Linked DNA regions of Homo sapiens: region 2 is linked to region 1. The links come from fine-mapping of genetic effects on gene expression. Tissue or cell type: lymphoblastoid cells. Region 1 holds a variant in brackets; the other region holds the start of a gene. All regions are shown on one strand. Distances are between the middles of the regions.

What was found. PIP is the estimated chance that this variant, and not a neighbour inherited with it, causes the effect.
Region 2: it holds the start of P2RY11, and the variant in region 1 is fine-mapped to the expression of P2RY11 in lymphoblastoid cells (TwinsUK, PIP 0.95). The same link has a PIP of 0.9 or more in whole blood.

Annotation. Positions count from the first base shown.
Region 1 is chr19:10,179,849-10,182,530 of GRCh38, reverse strand. It overlaps DNMT1 (DNA methyltransferase 1), which reads left to right. Exons shown (of 41, transcript NM_001130823.3): 2 at 454-490; 3 at 1,646-1,753; 4 at 1,962-2,181; 5 at 2,297-2,344. Among named protein-coding and RNA genes, the nearest start is that of DNMT1, 14 kb to the left of the region's middle. The variant T/C (reference allele first, on the strand shown) is at 1,235.
Region 2 is chr19:10,110,641-10,113,322 of GRCh38, reverse strand. P2RY11 (purinergic receptor P2Y11) reads right to left here and starts at 1,630. Exons shown (of 2, transcript NM_002566.5): 1 at 1,583-1,630. The coding sequence starts at 1,601. It overlaps PPAN (peter pan homolog), which reads right to left. Exons shown (of 12, transcript NM_020230.7): 11 at 2,457-2,626; 12 at 1,311-2,378. The coding sequence ends at 2,158. It overlaps PPAN-P2RY11 (PPAN-P2RY11 readthrough), which reads right to left. Exons shown (of 13, transcript NM_001198690.2): 11 at 2,457-2,626; 12 at 2,239-2,378.

The DNA.
Region 1 (2,682 bases):
ATATACACATATATATGTATATATATACACACATATATATACACATATATATGTATATATATACACACATATATATACACATATATATGTATATATATACACACATATATATACACATATATATGTATATATATACACATATATATGTATATATATACACACACACACACATACACATAATTGTGTTACAGAGCTGCTATGTAATCTCACAATCATCAGAAAAATGACCCCCAAAAGGGGAACCTTGTTCAGATCAGATGACTTCTTAGCATTAGGCATTCCAGTAGGACACTCTAGACTCTTGCGGGGAGACAAAAGCCAGCTTAGTTTTTTCTAACACTCATATGTTAAACTTGTTTGTGTCCAAAACTTCTTTAGAACTGTGATATTCTTACAGGCAAATGAAGTTGCTTAACAAGTGTTTGTATTTTCTCCCCTATTTCTTCCTCCCAGGCTCAAAGATTTGGAAAGAGACAGCTTAACAGAAAAGGTAATCTCCACCTTAAAATTTTTCTTATTACCAAATCTGACTGACACACTTTGTGGCTCATAAAAAGAAATTTGTTTTCTTTAAATGGATTTTGCATTTTTTCCCATGGAGTTTCAAAGATAATTTGGATATTCTTGTTAAATGTCAGCACTAATTTGCTGCTAATAGTTGGGTGGTGGTGGTGTTTTTTTTTGTTGTTGTTTTTGTTTTTTGAGACAGAGTCTCACTCTGTCACCCAGGCTAGAGTGCAATGGCATGATCTCGGCTCACTGTGACCTCTGCCTCCCGGATTCAAGCTGTTCTCCTGCCTCAGCCTCCCAAGTAGCTGGGACTACAGGCACGCACCACCATGCCCAGCTAATTTTTATATTATTAGTAGAGATGGGGTTTCACCATGTTGGCCAGACTGGTCTTGAACGCCTGCTCGTGATCTGCCCACCTTGGCCTCCCAAAGTGCTGGAATTACAGGCGTGAGCCACCATGCCTGGCCCAGGTTTTTTTTTTTTTTAACCAATCTCAGTTCCTAAACAATCTACTCTGGATTGTAACTTGTCCTGGTAACACTGTTTTATTGTGTTTTTGTTATTGTTTTGAGATAGGGTCTCATTCTGTAGCCCAGGCTGGAGTGCAGTGGCACAATTTTGGCTCACTGCAACCTTCGCCTCCCAGGCTCAAGTGATTTTCCCACTCAGCCTCCTGAGTAGCTCTAACTACAGGCTCAAGCCACCATGCCCAGCTAATTTT[T/C]AAATATTTTTTGTAAAGATGGGATTTTGTCATGTTGCCCCAGGCTGGTCTTGAACTCTGGGGCTCAAAGCAATCCACTTGCCTCGGCCTCCCAAAGTGCTGGGATTATAGGTGTGAGCCACTGTGCCTGGCCGACACTTTACAGAAGCACAGTATTATTCTTATAAACCATGATATGTCTCCATCTCACCTCCAGCTTTCCCATTTTTCACCACTTTGGAGACAGGAGTGAAGTGATCCTAATGGAAATTCCCTGAACACATTTCATGACTGTTTAGTGTTTTGACTGAGACAGCATTGCCTGCCATTCACTCATTGTGATGTGATCAGGCAGCTCAATAATTTGTGTATTAGTCCACTAGTGAATAGCTTGGGAATGTGGGTACTGCTAAACCTATATCCTTCCCTTAGGAATGTGTGAAGGAGAAATTGAATCTCTTGCACGAATTTCTGCAAACAGAAATAAAGAATCAGTTATGTGACTTGGAAACCAAATTACGTAAAGAAGAATTATCCGAGGTAAGTCAGTTCTCAGCATCCTAGCCTCTAGAAAAATGTCTCCTCCTAGTAACTTGTCTGTGACCAGGGAGGCAGCAAGATCCCCAGCTGTCCTCATTGCCTGATGATGATGATGATGATGATGATGATGAAGGAAACACATGTGTTTCCTTGTTCTCTGACACTTGTTTACATTCACTGCTACTTAAATTATCCTTTCCTGCTGTAGGAGGGCTACCTGGCTAAAGTCAAATCCCTTTTAAATAAAGATTTGTCCTTGGAGAACGGTGCTCATGCTTACAACCGGGAAGTGAATGGACGTCTAGAAAACGGGAACCAAGCAAGAAGTGAAGCCCGTAGAGTGGGAATGGCAGATGCCAACAGCCCCCCCAAACCCCTTTCCAAACCTCGCACGCCCAGGAGGAGCAAGTCCGATGGAGAGGCTAAGCGTAAGAGCAGATGATTCCTTTTATTTTTAATTGTTTTTGAGATGGAGTCTCACTGTGTTGCCCAGTCTGGAGCACAGTGGTGTAACCTCGGCTCACTGTAACCTCTGCCTCCCAGGTTCAAGAGACCCTCCTGCCTCAGCCTCCCAAGTAACTGGGATTAGAGGTATGTGCCACCACACCCAGCTAATTTTTGTATTTAGTAGAGATGGGGTCTTACCATGTTGGCCAGGCTGGTCCAGAACTCCTGACCTCAAGTAATCCACCTGCCTTGGCCTCCCAAAGTGCTGGGATTACAGGCATAAGCCACCACGCCTGGCCCTGCTTAACTCTCTTTCTTTCTTTCTTTTTTTTTTTTTTTTAATGACAGAGTCTTGCTCTATCGCCCAGGATAGAGTGCAATGGCGCGATCTCGGCTCACTGCAACCTCCGCCTCCCAGTTTCAAGCGATTCTCCTGCCTCAGCCTCCCAAGTAGCTAGTATTACAGGCGGGCACCACCATGC
Region 2 (2,682 bases), 69 kb after region 1:
CCAGCCCCAGCAAGGCCTGCCGGCTCCACTTCAGATCTGTGCCGTCCAAAGCCCCGTGGGGGTCCAGCCCCCACTCTGCCCTGACCTTGGCACCCGCCGCCGCCCAAAGCCTCTTCTCCCCGTGGCCACCAGAGAGCACCCGCGAGCGCTGGAGTCCTGCCCCATCCTTTTGCTTCCAGGTGCTCACACTTGGCCAGGGAGTTGCCGCCAAAAAGCCAGACTCACCCCACAAGGTCCCCCAAGAGCGCTCCCGCCCGCCATACCCCCCAGTGCCACCCTCTGTGCTCCGCGACTCACTCCCTCGCACCAGCCCACCCAGGCTTCCTGGCTGCTCTTGCAGACTTGTGCCTTGGTACCTTCGCACCCAGACTTTTTTTTTTGAGACAGAGTCTCACTCTCATCACCCAGGCTGGAGTGCAATGATGTGACTTCAGCTCACTGCAACCTCTGCCTCCCGGGTTCAAGTGATTCTCCTGCCTCAGCTTCCTGAGTATTTGGGACTACAGGCACCCACCACCACGCCTGGTTTAATTTTAAATTTTGCATTTTTAGTAGAGATGGGGTTTCCCCATGTTGGCCAAGAGGTCTCGAATTCCTGACCTCAGATCTGCCCGCCTCAGCCTCCCAAAGTGCTGAGATTACAAGTGTGAGCCACCGTGCCCAGCCACACCCAGACATTCTTGAGGCTCCTCTTCCCACGTCCGTGGTCCTGCCTGCGAGAGGCCCCAAGGCCACCCTAACCACTGTTGACAGCAGCCCTCGTGCCTCCACTCTCCCTTCCCTGCGTTATTTTCCCCCATACCCTGCGCCACCTGATGACGGTGAGAAAAATCTCCCTCCTTCGGGAGGATGGGGGGGCCTGCTTACCCATTACTGGTGCCAGTGCTCACCACAGTGCCCAGGGCACAGCAGCACAGGGGCACTCACTCCTTGTGCACCCCACCCCTGCCTCTGCAGGCTGGGGACAGGCTTCTCCGGAGGCGCCTCCCTGCTCCCAACGCCAGCCTGCTTAAGGAGGAAGTGTCGTCTAGACGTGGCTTTTTTTTGGAGACAGGATTTCACTGTCACCGAGGCTGAGGTGCAGTGGTGCAATCACAGCTCAGTGCAGTCTCGACCTCCTGGGGTCAAGTGATCCCCCTGCCTCAGCCTCCCGAGTAGCTGGAATCACAGGCTCGCATCACCACACCCAGCCTTGACCTAGGCTTTTTTTTTTTGAGATGGAGTTTCGCTCATTGCCCAAGCTGGAGTGCAATGGTGCAATCTCGGCTCATGGCAACCTCCGCCTCCCGGGTTTAAGTGATTCTCTTGTCTCAGCCTCCCGAGTAGCTGGGATTACAGGCATGTGCCACCAGGCCCAGCTAATTTTTTTATTTTTAGTAGAGACGGGGTTTCTCCTTGTTGGTCAGGGTGGTCTCGAACCCCTGACCTCGTGTTCCACCCCCCTCGACCTCCCAAAGTGCTGGGATTACAGGCGTGAGCCACCGTGCCCAGCCCCAGACCTAGGTGTTTTACCAATACCCACTACCCCCACCTCCTGACAATCTGCAGACCCCCAGAGACAGCCAACATGCCTTCTCCTTACCCGAGACGTTGGCTGCCATGCTCCCGTGCCGATCCTCAGCCTGTGTCTGCTACCCAGTTCCCCAGCCCCTCCCCCAGTCACCAGTGGCTTAGTGGGCCCTGCCCCAGCCCCATCCCCAGTTACTGGCCCAGCCAGCAGAGCAGGCCAGCGTGCCTTTCCACCCACGTTTCCTTCCTCATTGTGCCACAACCCTCCTGAGGTTCAAGCTCATCTGCTGAAAGTGTGACCTGTCTGCTTGCACGGCTCTTTGGTGGGACTGGGGGGAGGGGCCACTCATGGCTGCTGCTGCCACCAATGAAACCAACCCCGTGCAGGGTAGGGGAGAGACCCAGCTTCCAGGAAGAAACCAGGTGGGAGGGACTCTCGGGTGTGGCCGGCCCAGGACTCTCTGGGTTGCTTTGTATGGCTCCAGAATCCCCCATCCCAAACGCTGACGTGGACCCCTGGCCAATTCAGTTCTTTACTGGAGTGGAAGGGCTGGGGACACAACTCCTTTATGAAAGGAAACCGAGGGCCACATCTCGGGCCCCAATCTGGGGCGTTCAATCCAGCCGCTGCTCCGGTGCGGCTTGGGCTCAGGCCACTCTCTTCCCTGGGCGGCCCCGGCCCCGGCCTCGCCCACCATCCCGGGAAGCCCCTCTGGGCCCCCGCCTGGCCTGGGCTCCCTGGGACTTGTCCTTGGTCTTGGGAAACTTCTGGTCACAAAGGCGACCCCTGCCTCGATCCATTTCCCACCGCTTCCGCTTCCGCCCTGGAGACTTGGCAAGCCGTTTCTGCTTGGCCTCGGGGAACAGGTCTGTGGGGAGAGACAGTGTCAGGGCCCCCAGAGACAAGGACAGGCTCTGGGTGCCCTGCTGCAGACCCCACTCCATACCCTCACTGGGCGCCTCGCCCACCGCCTGGCAGAAATACTCGATGTCATCATCTTCCTGTTCATCATCGTCCTCACCCAACTCCAGGCTCGCCGTCCTTGAAGGGATCCCAGAGGCCTCTTCATCACTACCCCCGACCCGTGCCTTCTTCATGCCCTCCAGGCTCTTCTTTCTGGAGGAGGGCGTGGGGGTCAACATAGCCGCCCATCCCAGGGACCCCCCCTTGGC